Regions from separate parts of the Homo sapiens genome. Here region 1 is linked to region 2. Evidence: fine-mapped expression QTL. A gene starts in region 2. The other region holds a variant in brackets. All regions are shown on one strand. Distances are from middle to middle.

Region 1 (10,604 bases), 66 kb after region 2:
TTGCAGCTGTCCCTCCTTTGGGTGCATGTGACTTAGCTCAGCTTCCGTGGGCCATCTAGCTCTCCATTTGAATCCCTAAGTCTGGTTTATTACTTGGTCTGCCTACCTTGCTTATAAACAGGATTATTCCTGACCCCAGTCCATCTCCCTCTAAAAGAGAGGATATGTTGGCACGTGAATGAGGGCTGCAGACAAGCTGGCTCTCATTAGAATAGTCACAAATAATAGGGCAGAGCAACCACTTACAACTGGAAATTTGGTTTTAACTGATTGAACTGTCTTGGTTAGGTCAAGTTCTTGAATACAAACGACTGACTGCTTCGTAGATCCTTATATGGACATCACAGGACACTTACCCTAGTAACTATTTGGTTTATTCCTTTTCGTGGTGACATATCTAAGTAGTTCAACGTCCTTAGCTTCCTTGTGTTTTTATAAACATTCTTGTGCTTCATGTGCCTTCAGGAAATGTGGTGTGTCTGTTCATTTCCTTTACGCTTCCTTACTGCCACTACATAGACACTGCAGGCATTGGTTGCTTGCCCGCCGATGTACCACCTGATGAAGTTCATTCCTCTGTATTCCAAAGTGCAAAGGCCTTGTACGTCAACACCCATGATAGACAGCTTGTAAGTAAGGTGGTGAAAGATGTGTTAAGTGGTGGGGTTTTTCCCGTCTGATAATTAGAATTGAAATAGTTTAGTAAAGCTCTTGATTTCCTGCAAATGAGTCCTATAATTCTGTCTTTTTTTAAAAATAGACTGTTGGCGATTTTATATGGAAGTTAACCAGAAATGGAATTGGAGCATTGATGATCTGTGTTCTTTAGATTCAGTAGAAAATATTTTAGCGTTTACCAGCATATATCACTTGAAATAGACCAAAAATGCATATAGAAGAGACTTGAGTTCACTAGCTGTTACAGCATTGGTTACCTAAAATCTACTATACTCGTATAGCTGATATTCTACTTAGCCATCAAAGCTCTTTAGTAAAAGTATATATTGTTTAAAACTGCACTATTTAACATTTTTTCCCCATGTTTAGTGTTCGGCTAATGAATGAGTTCACTAATATGCCAGTACCTCCAAAACCCCGACAAGGTTAGTAAAAATGAGTTTTGTTGATGCTATTACATATTGGGAGTTATGGAGACAGATGACTTAAATTTGGTAAATTCAGTCTTGTTGGGAAGATAGTGTCTTTACACCTATGCCATTCTCAACATTCAGCCAGGTGGGAGGTGGGGGAGTTTTGATGATGTTGCTTTTTTCATCATTTATGAGTTCATTGTAGTTAGGAAAACCTGTGTCCTCTTTCCATTGCAGCTCTTGGAGATAAAATCGTGAGGGATATTCGCCCTGGAGCTGCCTTTGAGCCCACATATATTTACAGACTCCTGACAGTTAACAAGTCAAGCCTGTCTGAAAAGGTTTGAGACTTCTCTGTTGTCACTAGTATCAAGTGTTGCCTTTTGTTCCAGTGTTTGTGTGGTAACTGTTGCTTATTGATATTTGCCCTCTGTCTCCAGCGCTATAAGTAGATGTAGGTTTATAAGAGTCCATTGCTTGGATGATATGGTGCACCAAGCACTGCTCTCAGTACTTTACATATATTAACTTAGTTGACTCTGAATAAAGTATGATTATGGTCTCCTTGTTACGGTTAAGAGAAGTGAAGCCACTGTCTGAGGTCAGGTAGCTAATGTACATGGCAGAACCCAGCTTTCAAGTCAGTTCTCTTAACCACTGCACTATATGCCACTGGGGTAGAATGGAGTGCACTGGGCCTGGAATGATGGCAGTATTCAGAAGAGCTTATGTCTTCATCATACTTACAGGCTTTAGTAGCTATTTGATGTACTTGATTCCTTTACCTAATTTTTTTTTAATCACATACTTTGTTACTAAAGGCATGAGACCAAGGGGCCAGGGAGCCCTTATAAAAGGCCCTGGGGCTGTTGAGAGTGACTTGGGCCGCCCTTAGCACCGTTAACTGGAGCATTTCTTTCCTCCCAGATTGAGTTTGTGATGAATCAGTACAAGCAGTTGAAATGATGCTTAGGGAAATGTATTCAGAGAGAAAAATAGTTGAGAAAATGCCATTTAAGTCAAGTTTACTTGAAGCTTCATTGCTTTGAAGAAGAGTGAATGTCGAGGGCATCGTTGCAGGATACCACCAGGGGTAGCATAGGGTCTTAAGCTTTTTAAATGCTTATAATGCAGCTTTTGGTATTGGCTTGGAATTTGCACTTCCCAAGTAATGGGAACATGGTGTTAGGGATGCAGAAATGGAATGAAGTGCGCCCTCTGCCCTCAGTGAGGGAATGAGTTAATGAATAGTCAACAAGAGAAGCACAAAGATACAGAGATGCCTTAGAACCCAGAGGGGCCCACCTAGCACAGGTGGAGGCAAAATAAAGTGGGTGCTCAGGAACCCCTCTTGGATCGTGCACAGAGATAATGCTATGAACAAAAGCATCTTCTAAAGGTTACATTAATAGGGGATGTGTTGGGCTCCCCAAGACCACCCTGAGGTTGGGTGATTCACTGGAAGAACTCAGAAAATGCAGAAGCTGGTATACCCGTGGCTATGGTTGCTGACAGCAAAAGCATGCGGAGCAGAGTCAGGAAGGGAAAGGACAGGTGAGGCAGGGCCTAAAGGAAACTTCCAGACTCCTCTCCCAGTGGGGCCACAAGGCTACGCGTAACTACTCCAGCACCAGACTGTGACCACACGTGAAATGCTGCCAACCAGGGAAGGTCATTACAGACTCCGTGTCCAGAGTTTTTACTGAGGGCTGGTCCCATAGGTACCATCTGCCTGGCTTGAACCAAAAGTCCAAACTCCCAAAACAAAAGCAAAGTGTTCAGCAGAAAGCACATTGCTTGCGCAAACGGTTTAGGCAGAATCCCGTATCAGTTATTGGACCGATGGGAACCTTTCTGAAATCCAAATTCCCAGACACCAGCCAAGGGGCAACCTTGCAAGCAGGCCTTTCCAAGGAGAGCCACCCAGGCCTGCTATGAAAAGTCTTCAGCACACTTTGGCTGTGCCAGTTTTTGCCCTTTTCTGCACACGTGCAGAGCATGCACTCACGTGAACAGCTGCTGTCCACGTCTACTATCTGGAGAGGGCAAGTAAACTTTGCAGTTTACCTAGATGCTTCAAACAGAACAATTTGCAGGGCCTTGGAATAGGCAGTTGTGCTGTGAAGAATGAAATATGAACTGATGATAAGTAACAGAATCAAACACTCGTGATGTGGGATTATTAAACTCTTGGGTGACTCGTCTGTGAATGATTTTGCTGATGTATGTGTAACACAGCTAACGCTCTAAATCAGTGGAGTTTTTCCACATGTAGTTTGAGTTCTTTCCCATGTAGTTGTCCATCATCAAAGACAGACAGAAGCAGACATAGGGCTGCTTAGCTCATTGCTCGAGTGGTGACCCTTGCAGTTGAACAGTGAACTGGCCCTAGACATCTAGTTCTTCGTCTTCTATTTTGTTTACCCAAGACAGAAACTTTTTTTTAAATAACTTTTTTGTGATAAAGGTAATGTGGCCAGGTGTGGTGGCTCATGCCTGTAATCCCAGCACTTTGGGAAGCCAAGGCAGGCAGGTCACCTGAGGTCAGGAGTTTGAGACCAGCCTGGCCGACATGGTGAAACCCCGTCTCTACTAAAAATACAAAGATTAGCCAGGCATGGTGGCACACACCTGGAGTCCCAGCTACTCGGGAGGCTGAGGCAGGAGAATCGCTTGAACCCGGGAGCTGGAGGTTGCACTGAGCTGAGATTGCACCACTGCACTCCAGCCTGGGTGACGGAATGAGACTTTGTCTCAAAAAAAAAAAAAAGTATATTTATTGAAGAAAATTTCAAAAATACAGAAAGTATAAATAATAAAAATCCCCATTAGTCCACCCATTTAGAGATATGTGTTTAGTCAGTTTCTCCTTTTCCTCCTACTCTTGGGATTTCAGCTATGCAAGGGAAACCCATGTCATCATGTCATTGTTTGGAAATACTTTACATCTTCCATTTCAGAGGAGGCATGGTTGGACTTTGCAAGTACTGCATGTCCTGCAGGCCTTTGACAGTGATCAGTTCACAGTAACGTGATTATATTTGACCTTTTCAGGGTCGACAAGAAGATGCTGAGGAATACTTAGGCTTCATTCTAAATGGACTTCATGAGGAAATGTTGAACCTAAAGAAGCTTCTCTCACCAAGTAATGAAAGTAGGTTATGGTCCACTTGCCGCAGAGTTGTGCAAGAGTTCGCTGTAAACAGGTGTTGC[A/G]TACTCATATGTTATGTTGCTTCCCTGCCCCTCAGTCGTTTTCCTTTCAAATAGCATTTATTCCCTACGATAACTTACACCATCGAGAAGGTTATATTTAGGTAAATTACAGTTTATCCCGAACCTCTGCCATTTTCCTTTAACTTTTAATTAGGAAAATGATCAAGCCTATAAAAAAGCTGAAAGAATCGTTTGATGAATACCTTTATAATTGCCGAGTGTACAGTTTTAAACATATTTTCTGATGCTATACACACACTGTGTATATATATATATGTCTTATCTGTCCATCCATATATACATACATACGCATACATTTTCCCTGAATGATTCAAAGTTAAGTTGCAGCTAACAGTTTAGTTCATCTCAGGTGCTAAAGCATCTCCTGCGTAACCACAGTCCCTTATCTAACTGAGAAAAACAACTGTAATGACACGGTAATACCGACTTTGCAGAGCATCTTCAAATTTCGCCAGTTGTCCCAGGGATGTCATTTCTAGGAGTTTATGTAAACAAGGATCCAGTGGTGGTGCACCTGTTGCGATTGGTTGCCGTGGATCAAGTGGCATTGCAATGGGTTGCAGTGGATCCAGTGGCATTGCGCCTGTTGTGATTGGTTGCCGTGGATCCAGTGACGTTGCACCTGTTGCGATTGGTTGCCGTGGATCCAGTGACGTTGTGCCTGTTGGGATTGGTTGCCATGGATCCAGTGACGTTGCACCTGTTGCGATTGGTTGCCGTGGATCCAGTGACATTGTGCCTGTTGCGATTGGCCGTGGATCCAGTGACGTTGCTCCTGTTGCGATTGGTTGCCGTGGCTCCTAATGTAGACCACACCCTGATTTCATTTTTAAAACTGCAATCGACAGATCTGTGCCTTTTTTTTTTTTGCTGTTCTTGTCGTAAATAGTAGTGTAAGCAGATGCTCTCCTTTTCAGAACTTACGATTTCCAACGGCCCCAAAAACCACTCGGTCAATGAAGAAGAGCAGGAAGAACAAGGTGAAGGAAGCGAGGATGAATGGGAACAAGTGGGCCCCCGGAACAAGACTTCCGTCACCCGCCAGGCGGATTTTGTTCAGACTCCAATCACCGGCATTTTTGGTGGACACATCAGGTTTGTGCTTTTCTGGAATAACTTAATATTTGCCTTTTCTAGGGTTTTGCCATGTTGGTGAAGGGGGAAGGTGTGAGGCTTGTTTTGAGACTTCTTGGACGTAATGGTTTGCATCTTGCTCCCCTGCCTGCTCTTCTCTTGCACTTCCTGATGCTTCCCTTGTCAGCCCCCGTGGCTTATTCTCTCCCTGCTGGCGCATGTCTGCAGGGGACAGGGAGCTCCTCCCTTCTACTCTGTCAAGTTCAGCTGCTCACTGCTAGGGAGTAAGAGAAAAGCCAGCTAATTGGCCATACGCGGTGGTTCATGCCTGTAATCCCAGGACTTTGGGAGGCCAAGGCGGGTGGATCACCTGAGGTTAGAAGTTCGAGATCAACCTGATCAACATGGTGAAACCCCGTCTCTACTAAAAATACAAAAATCAACCAGGTGTGGTGACAGGCACCTGTAATCCCAGCTATTAGGGAGGCTGAGGCAGGAGAATCGCTTGAACCCAGGAGGCAGAGGTTGCAGTGGCCCAGATAGCGCCATTGCACTCCAGCATGGGTGACAGAGTGAGACTCTGTCTCAAGAAAAAAAAAAGAAAAAGATACAGGAGAATGTCATCATGACTTAGGGGTAGGCAAAGGTTTCATAAGATAGGTCATAAACAATAACCACGAGAGAGAGAGAAAAAAAAATATATATATATATATTAGACTTCATCTGCATTTAAAACTTGCAACATAAAACCACCTCCGGGAGGCAGAGGTTGCAGTGAGCCAAGATTACACCACTGCACTCCAGCCTGGGTGACAGAGCAAGACTGTCTTCAAAAAAAAAAACCAGCTAACCAAACCATGTGTTTTGGTAAGAGAAGACAGTGTATCTGGAGGAATTTTATTTATGTTAATAAATTGTGTATATTTAAAGTATACACAGATGTTATGAAATAGAGATAGTAAAATAGTTGCTACAGTGAAGCAGATAAACATATTCCCCATCACAGTTACCCTTGTGTGTGTGTGTGTGCACATGGCAAGAGCAGCTGCAGTTTTACTCATTTCACAAAAGTCCCAAATACAGTGCACTATGAGTAGCTCTTGTCCGATGTTCCACATCAGATCTCTAGACCTGTTCGCCTGTGTGGCTGCCCTTGGTGTCCTTCGACCGACATCTTCCATTCCCACTCGCCACCCCTAGGAACCACTCTTTTCCCTATCTCTGTAGTTTCGTCTTTTTTTTTTTTTTAATAAAGATTCCATGTATAAGTGAGACCATGCAATATTTTTCTTTCTGTGTCTGACTTCTTTAACTTAGTATAATGTTCCCCAGGTTCATTCCTGTTGTGGCAAATGGCAGGGTCTTTATTACAGCTGAATAGTGTTCCCTTGTCTATATATACACACCACAGTTTCTTTATCCATTGGCCCATCCACAGACAGTTGTTTCCCTGTCTTGGCTGTTGTGAACTGATTGGAAGCAGGTGAGGTAGAAAGTGAAGAGAGTGTGAAGGGAGGTCTTTTTTACACAGACAGACCCGTGACTGGGCTGGAGTCCCTGGGCACCTGGCTGTGTGCCAGTTCCCTTAAGCAGCTTTTTGCTCATTCACAAAGTCCTTCGGAAAGGTTTTTCTTTATTTACCTGAGAGCTTTTCAGTACCACTGTGATGTGGAATTCAGCAAAACTTGTACCATCTCCAAGAAGGTTTACCCATCGAAAGTACTGAAGAGGCCTCATTGGAGCCTAATTTCCTTTCTGAGGCCTTGCGGCATAACCCCCAGGCTGGTATTTCAGTGACACTCTTAGTCTGTTGTTGTCCCAAATGCTGCGTACCTGAAAGAAAGAGCACCCCTTTTGAGGCATCAAGACTTGATTCAGTCTCAGTTCTGAGACTGAATCAACAACTTTCAACAGGTGAATAATAAGAACCTCAGAAACCTGCGCTGACGCCCTCAGAAGCTGGTTTCCCGTCCTCTGTGGAAGTGGATTTAGAAGCCAGTTGAGCAGCCATGTGACCTTGAACAAGTCACTTCTGTGTTCTGCACTGTGAGCTCTATTCCACTGGCCCCTTTCTATTCTGGTGCTCTGTGGAGTGTCCACGGCAGCTGGGTGGTCAGTTGTCACCTGGGAAACACCCAGCCCTGACCACTGTCTGTGGTTCCTTGGGACACGTCGTGTTGGGAGGGAGACGCTGAGGTCCAGGTTGGCGCGCAGCAGCGAGGGAAGGCTGTGCCCTTTGCTCCTTCAGCCCAGCAGCCTGGTTTAGGATTGTGAGGACACCCCCTCGGGATGGGAGAGAAAGATGAATGGACAGCTCAAATGGAGGCATCGGGAACATGGTTTTTGTGCAGAGGCCGGGTATCAGAATTTCAAGGCCACAGAGGGTCAGCATACTCAAAGATCCCAAATTTGTCTAAGAGTAACCAGTGGAAAATACCAGCGTCCATTTGGAGGACTTGCTGGCTCAGATTGAACAGCTCTGTCACAGCTGCTAGCCACATCCTCTGAGGGGTCTCTGTGTTGAAATTGGTTGTTGATGTTTCTTTTTGAAAAACGGTAAAGCAAAGATAGGGAATTCTTACAACGTAGGAACTTCTTTTCAGCCATTGTTAAGCATGATTCTTTATTCACACCAATTGAAAGATTTACTTCTAAAACTCAGCCTCTTCAGATGTTTTTCAGTTTCCCCAGGAAGACTTCCCCGCCTTTCTTCCCCGGTGCCACCTTTGCTAAAACACAGGACCACTGAATCAAGAGGGCTTCTTGATTCTCCACCAGCTCTCATGAGCGGTTTCCCCACTACTGTATCCCTCTCCAGAACCAGGGGAACTGTTGTCACTGAAGTCTTCAAACTGTAAAGGAGCATGGAGATGCGTAATTAAACCCTGGACAGAAAAGCTTTTAGCGAGCTCTTCACCGCATCTGTTCTGGAAAGCCTGAGTACCTGTCCACACCCATTTTATTCCGTTGAGAAACTAGGTCACCGAGACTGCAGAAATAGAAGCCCTTGTTGAACCCCTGGAATGTTTCCTTGCTGAGGCTAAATGAGAGATGGGCCGAACACACAATTTTTACTCAGAAAAACTTAGAAAAAGGAAAAAAAAAATGAAATGAAAAACCAGCTAAGAAAACAAGGTCAAATTGGCGCCCTTCTTGGAAGGGTGGCAGCCTTTTTTCCTGGAATGTTAACTTGTTTTTTATTCTACACACCCTACTCCCCTTCTTCTTTTTGTAAGACATCTTTATAGGAGGAAAATGCCATTAAAAATCCTCTATTTACCTTGGGATTTCCTCTATTTTATTAGAACAGGCTATGATACTTGGAGAAAATGGAAAGCAGCAGCGTTTTGAGGCCATGGCAGGGTGGCTGCCTTTATGAACCGGTGCAGTAAATAACAGTGTGGAGAGGAAGTGAAAGAATTTGGAAAATGAAATATGTTTTCTTCCAGAGCACTGGCGTTGGGAACATTTATCAACTGGTAGATTTAGTTGTTAGAAATACTAAGGAGGTGCTATTCAGCAGAATTATTATTATTTTTTTTAATTTATTTTTTTATTGATAATTCTTGGGTGTTTCTCACAGAGGGGGATTTGGCAGGGTCATGGGACAATAGTGGAGGGAAGGTCAGCAGACAAACAAGTGAACAAAGGTCTCTGGTTTTCCTAGGCAGAGGACCCTGCGGCCTTCCGCAGTGTTTGTGTCCCTGATTACTTGAGATCAGGGATTGGTGATGACTCTTAACGAGCATGCTGCCTTCAAGCATCTGTTTAACAAAGCACATCTTCAGCAGAATTATTTTTAAATTCAGTATATTTTTGGCTTTTCTCTGTGGTCTTTTGAAAGTGATATTGAATAATCTTATTTTCAGTGTTTATTCCCTTGGTTAATCTTAAGGGAAAGTGGCAAGGAGTGGTCTCTTAATTTTTTTGTTTTTGCTTTCAATTCTTAGGTCTGTGGTTTACCAGCAGAGTTCAAAAGAATCTGCCACTTTGCAGCCATTTTTCACGTTGCAGTTGGATATCCAGTCAGACAAGATACGCACAGTCCAGGATGCACTGGAGAGCTTGGTGGCAAGAGAATCTGTCCAAGGTTATACCACAAAAACCAAACAAGAGGTATGTTCACACTTGATTTTGAACCTTTCTACTAAGGTGCTCTGGTTTGGTGGAAAGAACACAAAATTAGGAATGAGGGGAAATGGGTTTGAGTTATGCCTCTTAAATCAGTTGCTTAACCATTTTGTACTGAAAGTTTTTATGGTTTTACAATGAAATGGTTGAAACGTGATCCCAAGGGCCTCTTTTAGCTCTAAATCATATTACACAAGGTAATGATCTCCTTTTGGATTGTTTATCTTGAGCTACATTTAATTTTCTGGCAATCTAATGATGATATCACAACATCAATACTACCTCTGACAGAGGCCAAATAGCTTATTTATGTTCATGATACCGTAGGGTACAACTGTCATTAGATTAGTTAGGATGTCAGAGAGATTCCAGACACATCTGTTTTGCATTTGATTGTAGATCTTCCAGGTCATTGTAAATATAATATAGTCATTGTAAATATAATATAGTCATTGTTCTGATGCTTGTTACTCTTTGATTTGATCTGGAAAAGGTAAGATTCTTGAGTCTTTCAGTCTTCATGAATTTAAGAGTATCACATTATAGCTTGGTGGAGTCCTTGTCAACTCAGTTGGGCGAGACGGATAGCATTCTGCCCTGTGAGAGCTTATTAGTTCCTGGCTGTCCAGATGTGCCAGCTTATAGCTATTTTGTACTCTGCAGCAGAGAGTGTCTTCTCTGTTATATATCTTAGGTTGTGGCAGTGAATTCATAAAAATGCACTGGGGAGATGAATGCAGGCTGATAATTATGGACGGTCCATAGCATTCCTGCAAAGCGATATTTGAATAATGGGCAGTGGATGGCAGCTACAAGGTAAAATAAGGTGCCCCAACGTAGAAGACCTGTCATCACATTGCATGACTGGGATGGATCTATCCTTGGCTTATCTTGTGTGCTCTGAGTCAGAAAGAGCAAAGTAGGACATAGGGACCCTTAGCACCTTCGGGGTGTCCTGCTGTGGACTGGTTCACCCAGGCTCTGGGGGGATCAGTAGAAGTTATGCCTAATCTTCTACCGTATTTGCAGACTTGCATCTCATGGGTGATTTTGTTTAAAAAATAGAAGCAGTAG
Region 2 (10,496 bases):
GGAGTGGTATGATCTCGGCTCACTGCAACCTCCACCCCCCAGGTTCAAGCAATCCTCCTGCCTCAGCCTCCTGAGTAGCTGGGATTACAGGTACCTGCCACCATGTCCAGTGGATTTTTGTATTTTTTAGTAGAGACGGACGGTGTTTTGCCATGTTAGCCAGGCTAGTCTTGAACTCCTGGGCTTAAGTGATCCACCTGCCTTAGCCTCCCAAAGTACTGGGATTACAGGCATGAGCCACTGCGCCAGGCCTGATTCTAGTGGAAGAAAAAGACAATAAACACACAAAATTAATATGCCATAGAATGTCAGCTAGTTTCCCCAAATGTCAGCTACAAGTTTCCCCAAATTCTAATTTTTGTTTGAAAGAAAGTTTGTGAGTGCTGTGGGAAATTAACCTGGATAGCAGGAGGGCACAGGGTGGGGCACCCATTATGGGCAAAGGAGTGAGGAGGGTCCTTTAGGAAGAGACGACCATTAACAGAAACCTGAGTGAATGAAGGGTTGAGCCTCCCTGGGGAAAGTTCCAGGCAGACAGAGGGCACATTTAAAGTGGGCACTTGCTGGCACGGGAGAGCTGGAGTTCTCAAACTTCTTGGTCGCTGATCTCTTCACATTCTTAAAAATTATTGTTGGCTGACCTCCTGTTGGCAAAGCTAAAGAATTAAATGAGAAAAAAAAAAAAAAAAAAAGAGCCAGTGCGGTGGCTCACGCCTGTAATTCCAGCACTTTGGGAGGCCGAGGTGGGAGGATCACGAGGTCAGGAGTTCGAGACCAGCCTGACCAACATGGTGAAACCCTATCTCTACTAAAAATACAAAAACTAGCCGGGCGTGGTGGCTCACGCACCTGTAATCCCAGCTATTCAGGAGGCCGAGGCAGGAGAATCGCTTGAACACAGGAGACAGAGGTTGTATCTGTTGTGGTTTACCATATTAGAAGTAAAAACTAAAACATTACAAAATAATAACAATTTATTTAAAATATAATACTTTCATTAAATGTTAACATAAATAACATCATTTTAGTGAAAAACAACTATACTCCAAAACAAAACATTTTGGTGAGAGGAGTGGCATTATTTTGTATTTTTACAAATTTTTAAAAAGTCTGGGCCAGGAGCAGTGGCTCACACCTGTAATCCCAGCACTGTGGGAGACTGAGGAGAAAGGATTGCTTGAGCTCAGGAGTTTGAGACCAGCCTCGGATTACAAGCATTAGCCATTGTGTCTGGCCCCACTGTCCTATCTTGTACTTTGAATGGATCTTTTACTCATGTGCAATTTTATAACATCAGTCATTTGGAAAACATTGATTCGCTGAGTTATGCAGATCTTCCAAATGTTGACGCATTCTATTCTATTTTTTTTTTTTAATTACAGACATAAAGATGGCAACAATAGACACTAGCGACTACTAGAGGGGGAAGGGAGGGAGGGGGGCAAGCGTTGAACAACTAACAGTGGGTACTATGCTCAGTACCTGGGGGGCGAGATCATTCCTACCCCAAATCTCAGCATCATGCAGTATACCCAGGTAACAAACCTGCACATGTACCTCCTGAATCTAAAAGTTGAAAAAAAGTTACATTTATTACTATCACCACCAATCTTATCAGAAAAGTCTTTAAGAATTGGGTAGCTGTCCATCTCACAATGGTGGATACAAGTGTCTCCAAATTCTAATTTTTGTTTGAAAGAAAGCTTGAATTTTATAATTGGCAATAAATGCTGTCAAATGCACTGAGCCCTTCCTGTGCAAACCTCACTTTCCCTTCTAAGAACTCTGGGAGTAATAATGACAATTTTCACCATTTATTAAGCCCTTGCTGTATGCCGGACATTTTGCTAAGCAATTTGCCTCTGTTATCTTATTCTCCTTTTCACGATATCCCTGGGAGGTATTATTTCTCCCATTTTGCAGATGAGGAAACTGAGGTCCAGAGACACTAGTTACTTGCTTAAGGCCACACAGTTAGTGGCACTCCTATATACTTTCAGAGTTCCAGAAAAGAACTCTTGGGAAACACCTACTCATCAAGATCTAGCTCAAATGTTACCTCCTTGGGGAAGCCTTATGCCCAAACTGGACAATGAGAAAACTCACTTACCATTTGTTGAATGGTAGTTTAAAAGCACCAGGCACCGGGCATGGTGGCTCATGCCTGTAATCTCAGCATTTTGGGATGCCGAGGCGGGTGGATCACCTGAGGTCAGGAGTTTGAGACCAGCCTGGCCAACAGAGTGAAACGCTGTCTCTACTAAAAATACAAAAATTAGCTGGGCATGGTGGTGCATGCCTGCAATCTCGGCTACTTGGGAGGCTGAGGCAGAAGAATCGTTTGAACCCTGGAGGCGGAGGTTGCAGCGAGCTGAGATCATGCCACTGTACTCCAGCCTGGGCGACAAAGTGAAATTCCGTCTCAAAAAAATAAAAAAATAAAAGCACCAGGCAGCACACTCCATGTGCTAGCTCCATTACTTCATCTCCTCCTAGCAACAGGCTTATAGAACAGGTAGTGTTGCTTCCCCTGTCATAGTTTCCTATTGTTGCTGGAACAAAATTTACCGGCTTAAATCAACACAAGTTTTTTGTTTTAAAGTTCTGTAGCTCAGAAGACTCACGGGGCTAAATCAAGCTGTAAGCAAGGCTATGTTCCTTCTGGCAGCACTAGCAGAAAATGTTTGCCCTTTTCCAGCTCCTAGAGGCCACCCACATTCCTTGGCTCGTGGCACCAGCAGCGCAGCATCTTCAAATCTCTCCCTCTCTCTTTCTGCTTCTATTTTCACATCTCCTTGTGACCTGACTCTCTTGCCCCTCCTTCTTTCCCTCATAAGGACCCTTGTGATTACTTGGGACCCACCAGTCATGTCATAATTAGGTTATTTCCCAGGATAATCCATCTCAAAGCCTTTAACATTACCACATTTGCAATGTTCCTTTTACCATGTAAAGTAATATATCCACAGGTTCTGAGGTTGGGGCATGGACATCTTTGAGGGGAGGGGCATTATTCTGCCCATCACACCACCTTCTACAAAAGATTCACAGAAAATGTAGGTAACTTGCCCAGGTTCACACAGCTAGTGAGTGGGGGATTCCAGATTTGAACTTGGGCCTGTCTTGACTCCAGGCCTAGGCCACTGTCCCCAGACTCATGGGAGATACCAGGTGTATTAGTCGGTTGTCATGCTGCTAATAAAGACATACATACCCAAGCTAGGTAATTTATAAAGCAAAGAGGTTTAATTGACTCACAGTTCCACATGGCAAGGGAGGCCTCACAATCATGGCGGAAGGCAAATGAGGAGCAAAGTCACGCTTAACATGGCGGCAGGCAAGAGAGCTTGTGCAGGGGAACTCTCATTTGTAAAACCATTAGAGGCTGGGCGTGGTGGCTCACGCCTGTATTCCCAGCACTTTGGGAGGCTGACGTGGGCAGATCACTTGAGGTCAGGAGTTCAAGACCAGCCTGGCCATCATGGTGAAACCCCATCTCTACTAAAAATACGAAAATTAGCCGGGCGTGGTGTCACATGCCTGTAGTCCCAGCTACTCCAGAAGCTGAGGCAGGAGAATCACTTGAACCCAGAAGGCGGAGGTTACGGTGAGCTGAGATCCTGCCACTGCACTCCAGCCTGGGCGACAGAGCAAGACTGTCTCAAAAACAAAAACAAAAACAAAAACAAAAAAACAACCAAACAAACCAAAAAAACCACACACACACACACACACACACACACACACACAAACATTAGATCTTGTGAGACTTACTCACTACCATGAGAACAGTATGGGGAAAACCACGCCAATGATTCAATTATCACCACGTGGCCCCACTCTTGACACGTGGGGATTATTACAATCCAAGATGAGATTTGGGTGGGGACACAGCCGAAGTATATCACCAGGCTCTGCTAAGCACTGAAGGCCATAGTGCTTGTTCATAGCTTCCTTTTAACATCTATTTCCTTGTACTGAAGGTATGTGTTCATATCTATGTGAATTATTTGAAAATGAAGACTGGGATCTTTTTTATTTATTTATTTATATATTTATTTATTTGTGAGACAAAGTCTCACTTTTGTCCCCCAGGCTGGAGTGAGATGGTGTGATCTCAGCTCACTGCAACCTCCGCCTCCCGGGTTCAAGCAATTTTCCTGCCTAGGCCCCCCAGGTAGCTGGGATTACAGGTGCCCGCCACCATGCCCAGCTAATTTTTGTATTTTTAGTAGAGACGGGGTTTCACCATGTTGGCCAGGCTAGTCTCGAACTTTTGACCTCAGGTGATCCACCCGCCTCAGCCTCCCAAAGTGCTGGGATTACAGGCGTGAGCCACCGTGCCTGGCCTGGGATCTTTTGTTTATTATCACTTTTATTTGTTGTTCAAGCAACTGTATGATAAAAATCAGACAAACAACTATATATATATATATATATATATATATATATATATATATATATATATGTTTTTTTTTTTTTTTTTTTTTGAGACAGAGTTTCACTCTTGTTGTCCAGGCTGGAGTGCAATGGTGCCATCTCGGCTCACTGCAACCTCTGCCTCCCGGGTTCAAGCGATTCTTCTGCCTCAGCCTCCTGAGTAGCTGGGATTACAGGCGCCTGCCACCACGCCCGACTAATTTTTGTATTTTTAGTAGAGACGGGGCTTCACCATGTTGATCAGGCTGGTCTTGAACTCCCGACCTCAGGTGATCCACCCACCTCAGCCTTCCAAAGTGCTGAGATTACAGGTGTGAGCCACCGCACCGAGCCAGAGAGACAACCATAAATCACTAGTGAGTTTTCACGTCCCCCAGTTTCTATCCAAGTGCAGATATCGCTTTTCCATGGTTAAAATTATAGCACAGACACTATATTGTATTGTTTTCCCCAATTTTTTGTTATAAAAATTTTCAAACATAGAGAAAAGCTGAAATATATAGCACTACTTAGAGCCAACAATAGTAAACATTTTGCCATATTTGCTGTCTCTCCCTGAATGTTTATGTGTGTACATGATTTTATCTTTTGTTGAACCATTAAACAATAGTTTACAGGCATTATGGCCTTCACTCCTCAACTCTTCAGAATGCATCTCCTCACAATAAGGACATTCTCTCAGTGAGCACAGTATAATTATTACACTATAAAATTACCAATAATTCACGAAGATCACCCATATCCAATCCATATTCAAATGTCTCCAATTGTCAACAAATAGTAAAACCAGCTTAAAAGACATATCAGGATCCAAGCAAGATGACACATTGTATTTGGTTATGTTTTCTAGCTCTTCTATTTTGGAACAACCCCTCCCTACCACTTATATTTTTCTTTTCTTTTCTTTCTTTCTTTCTTTCTTTTTTTTTTTTTGAGACAGAGACTCGCTCTGTCACCCAGGCTGGAGTGCAGTGGCACGATCTCGGCTCACCGCAACCTCCGTCTCCGGGGTTCAAGTGATCCTCCCACCTCAGCCTCCTGAGTAGCTGGGACGCCTGGTGTGCCACACTACATCCCACCAATTTTTGTATTTTTAGTAGAGTTGGGGTTTCATCATATTAGCCAGGCTGGTCTCCAACTCCTGACTTCAAGTGATCCGCCCGCCTCGGCCTCCCAATGTGTGGGATTCCGGGTGTGAGCCGCTGCGCCTGGCCCACTTATATTTTTCATGGCATCCCATTTATGAAGAGACCAGGCTCCCTATTTTATGTAACGTGGGAATGGATCTTCCTGTTCATCTCCTCTGCTCAGTGTACGGTCTAGCAAGAGCAGACTCTCTGTAGGTGTTTGTTGAATAAATGAAACCAATAGTAATGGTTATTAATAACAATCCCAGTAGCCAATTTTTATTGACTATTCTCTTGGCCAGTGTGCTCACGTTAATCTAATTTGAACCTCACAGAAATCTTACGCGTTATGACATATTTGTCTTATTCACAGGTGAGGAAACCAAGGCTTAGGGAAGGAAAGTCGCTTGTCTGAAATCACAGCTAGAAAAGGGGCCAAAACCCAAGGGTGGACCCACTGGCTGGAAAACAGTGCAGTTAGGCAGGGGCCCCTGTTTCTTAATAATGAATGAACCAACGACCCCCAAGGCTGGTTTGCCCGTGCACACGCACGCACGTGTGCAACACGTAGCACTTGCTGAGTGTTTGCTACTTGCCAGGCCTCATGTCAAGCACTTTACGCGTGCTTTTATGCCCTACGTTTTGTTTTTGTCTGTTTTGCTTTTTTCCCCTAATGCCTAGCCAAAGGCGTGGCCCAGGCGCCCAGGCAGGACTTGGGGAGTGAATGAAGAGTGAACAAATGAATGAATGCGCGGCAACGGGATCTTCATAAACCAGACCCTCCTCGGGGATCTAATGCGAACACTCCCGAGGCCCGGGCCCAGGTACGCTGAGGGCGGCTCGTGGGCCCCAGGCCGACCTCAGCCCGCGACTCCCGGGCTCCGGGGGCCCAGGTGGCCCCCAGTAGGTGAGGAGCCGGGCCCGCCGGCGCCTTGGCGTTGCCACCTCTACCTGCCTGCCCTCTCCCCTTCCGGATCCACAGCCAGGCCTCGGCGGGCTCCTGGTGTGCAGCCGCCCGGCCGCTTCCGCCCGAGGGTCGCGGGGCTCAGAGTCCGGCAGGCTCCAGGCGGGGCAGGGGATGTCCGCGGCCCGGCAGGCGCACGCCCACCTGTCGGCCGCGCAGGCGCAGCAGCGGGCCGGCCTCCCCGCGCCCCGCGGCGCGCGGCCAGTGCGCAGGCGCGGCGGCCGATGCGAGTGTGTATGTGCGGGCGAGAAGATGGCGGCGGCGGGGGAAGCAGCGTGAGCAGCCGGAGGATCGCGGAGTCCCAATGAAACGGGCAGCCATGGCCCTCCACAGCCCGCAGGTAGCCGCCGGTCTGCGCCTTCGGCCGGAAGGGGCCCGAGCCCCGGGCGGGCGGACGCCGCGGCGGGCGGGCGTCCGCGCCCTGCCCGGAGCGAGCGTGTGGGAGTGGGGGAGGGCGCTGGGACACGCTGCCCGGGCCTAGGCCGGAGCCACCCGCCGCCTCCGCGCCCGCCGCGCCTTCGTCCCCTGAGCCACCCGGACCCCCTAGTCCCGGGGAGGTCGAAGGGCGGGGGCTCCGGGCCCCGCTTGGGGAGGGCGTGGAGGGCGCCGAAGGGGTTAACCTCCCTGGGGCTGGACCGCGGGGCGAGCCCGGGGTGTGGAGTGGGGCCCTCCCCGCCGCGCCGGCCGGGGGAGGCGGCCCGGGGGCTCCGGGAGTCCCCTGGAGCGCAGGGGCCCCAGAGCAGCTCAGGTTGCTGCCTCTGCCTGGAGCGAGCCTCAGAGATTTGGGGGTGCCCTGTTGCCCCTTTGCCCCAAGAGCTTCCTTTCTCAGCTTGATTGATGATGCGGGGGTTGCCGATTTTCTGTTTTTTAGATAGAAGTAGCAGAGTAGCGGCCTTGGGCTGCTGTTGCAAAGAAAACTCGAAATAAGTCGCAAGGACCGTACTTTCACTTGCGTTTGAGTGACATCCCTTGCACGAATCCATCCCAGCCAGGCTGACAACTAACGCACCCTGCCTGAACAGTAGCTAAAGCTTGGGGGCCCTTTACAATAATCCCGTGGTGGAAAGAAAGAGCTCTTTTTGGGAGATGTGCGTGTAGAGTTAAGCTCTTATTCCCCTCTCCCACCCCTTCTCTCACATCTTCTCCCCCCTCCGCCATTATAATTATTCTGGACAAAAATCGGCATGATGTATTATTTGTCAGCCTTGCTTTAGACTGCTAATTTGTTGACATCTGGTCCCTATAAATTGTTGCACACTTTTAAACCATCTCATTGTGTATTTGTATTAAATATGGGGAAATGAAACAAAGTAGCCATTCGGGAAACTGATTGCGAGTAAAATCATAACCCTTCATGAGCAATTGGGTTTTGTTGCCCTTCTGCAGATGAAGTCAATCTGACTACACCTCTTTTGAAACATGATTTTCGGAACTATTGTAATGAATGCGTGTTGTGGAATCTAAAATGCGAAAACTTTTTAAAAAATTAGATCTTACGACAAGCTTCAATTTTGTTAAATTAGCTGTAGTTTAGTTTGCATCAGAATTTCCCCCTTTAACGTTTTGTTCCCTTATTCATTTACTTTTGTAAGTAGTGTAGGTCTTTGCGCCAAAAAAGGGATCAGTAGTTGAATAATTTTTACAAATGTATAGCCCAAAGATTTTAAGAGATTTGGTGTATTTAGCTTTGTTTAGACCTTTCTGTTAAAAAAAAAGATTTGATATTTGCTTTTTTCTCAACTTAAATCCTAATTAACTAGCTTATTAGAATTGGTATGAACAAGTAAAAGGCTCATTATGAATTAATGTGTAATATTCCTTGTGATTTTGACATGAAGAAAGCATCTTTAGGCATAGCTCACTTCCTTTATTTAATAAGCATCAATCACAATTCAAGGTTGATTGAAATGTTAATTAATGGGGATGGATAATATGTAAACTTAATTGTAATTTCGTTTGCATTCATTGTCCCAGTATTTACGTTTTATACAACAGTCTAAAGCGTTATACACATCTTTAGAAAATTGGAGTAGCAAAAGTTGGCGGAACGTAAATGTTAGCAACACTTTGGGTTTATTCTTTTAAAGTATGATTTAAATGCTTTTAAGTTTTAGCATGGAGAAAGTAGCAAAGGAAATAGTTTGATTTCTCATAATTTTCTTCTTCTTTTTTTTTTTTTTTTTGAGTTGGAATTTGGCTCTTGTTGCCCAGGCTGGAGTGCTGTGGTTATTAACCTATAAACTTTTTTATTTATTTTGAGATGGAGTTTCGCTCTTTTTTTTTTTTTTTTTTTTTTTTTTTTGAGACGGGAGTCTTGCTCTGTCGCCCAGGCTGGAGTGCAGTGGCATGATCTCGGCCCACTGCAACCTCTGCCTCCCGGGTTCAAGCGATTCTCCTGCCTCAGCCTCCCAAGTAGCTGGGATTACAGGCGCCCACCACCATGCCTGGCTAATTTTTTGTATTTTTATTAAAGACGGGTTTCACCATGTTGATCAGGCTGGTCTCAAACTCCTGAGCTCAGGTGATCCACCCGCCTCGGCCTCTCAAAGTGCTGGGATTATAGGCGTGAGCCACTACTGCGCCTGGCCGATTTCTCATAATTTTCATTTTAAAAGAATAGTAATGCAAACAAGTAATGGAATCATGTATGACAGGATTTAGTTACTGGTTCCTGCTCCAGTCATTCTGAGCGTTTTAATAAATTTGTTTTACTTGGTTGCCTACTGTCCTAAGAGTCTTGCAGCCTTAATGGCCATTCATTCATTCAGCAAATACTGATTGTTTATCAGATATTAAGCGTCATGGTATGTATATTACTTGTTTATGTTGGGAATAACAACTGCAAATTGAAGGTCTTATTTTAAAATTGACTTGTTAAAGTTAAATTTGTCACTGAGAATAATGGGAGGTGGAAAAAGTTACAGTTTAAAAATGTTTACAGGCCAGCGCGGTGGCTCGTGCCTGTAATCCCAGCACTTTGGGAGGCGCAGGTGGGTGGATCACTTGAGGTCAGGGGTTCGAGATCAGCCTGACCAATATAGTGAGACCCTGTCTCTACTAAAAATACAAAAATTAGCCGAGTGTGGTGAAGCTCGCCTGTAGTCCCAGGTACTTGGGAGGCTGAGGCAGGAGAATCGCTTGAACCCGGGAGGCGGAGGTTGCAGTGAGCCGAGATCATGCCACTGCACTCCAGCCTGGGCGACAGAGCAAGACTCCCGTCTCAAAAAAAAAAAAAAAAAAAAGAGCGAAACTCCATCTCAAAATAAATAAAAAAGTTTATAGGTTAATAACCTTATTTCCAAATATTAGAAAGTGTTGGTTGATCCCTGTTACCTGTATTGAAGTGTAATAGTGAAGAATTTGGAAACATTTTGAGACCGGTAACTCAGCATTTTAGCAAAGACAAATAAATGAACTTTAACAGTTGAAGTGTAGGTCCAAGTGAATATCCTTGTCACTGAGGGGACCGGTTAAATTATTTGGGGTAATTAATTTGAAGCTATTAGTTTTGCCTTACACCGAAAAAATATTTGTGATTATTGATGTCATTTATAGTGAAATCTCCACAATAATGCTTCCTACACCCAATTTGAATGTCATGCAGTTGGCTTCTGTCCTTGTCTCTGCATAGACTCACCCCAGTCTCTTTTTTAGCTTGTAATAGCAGATCCTCCACATTTTACATGATGGAAAGTCTTGGATTCCCCCTCTAGCATATGGCTGAATGTTACTGTATTGCTGAATATCTGTTTCTAGCCAACAGCTGGATTAGTGTTAATTCTTAAAAGAGATACATTTTTATTAGAATCTCAAGTAATGAGCAGCTGAAGTAAATACAATTGTTTGAAATGTTGACAGGGCATTTGGAGATAACAGTTTTCCTTTGCATAGTGACAGCAAGCTATTTAAACATGTCCTAAGAGTAGATGTTTTAAGTTTGTGAGCCAGTGGTCACCTTAGTGGTT

What was found.
Region 1: its variant is fine-mapped to the expression of USP10 in whole blood (TOPMed, PIP above 0.99).

Annotation. Positions count from the first base shown.
Region 1 is chr16:84,758,844-84,769,447 of GRCh38, forward strand. It overlaps USP10 (ubiquitin specific peptidase 10), which reads left to right. Exons shown (of 14, transcript NM_005153.3): 6 at 520-629; 7 at 1,048-1,103; 8 at 1,329-1,432; 9 at 4,146-4,245; 10 at 5,243-5,420; 11 at 9,350-9,515. Among named protein-coding and RNA genes, the nearest start is that of CRISPLD2, 56 kb to the right of the region's middle. RefSeq lists a silencer at 2,080-2,374. The variant A/G (reference allele first, on the strand shown) is at 4,305.
Region 2 is chr16:84,693,241-84,703,736 of GRCh38, forward strand. It overlaps USP10 (ubiquitin specific peptidase 10), which reads left to right and starts at 6,760. Exons shown (of 14, transcript NM_005153.3): 1 at 6,760-6,871. The coding sequence starts at 6,851. RefSeq lists silencers at 6,232-6,751, 6,842-7,061, 7,072-7,181, 7,222-7,331.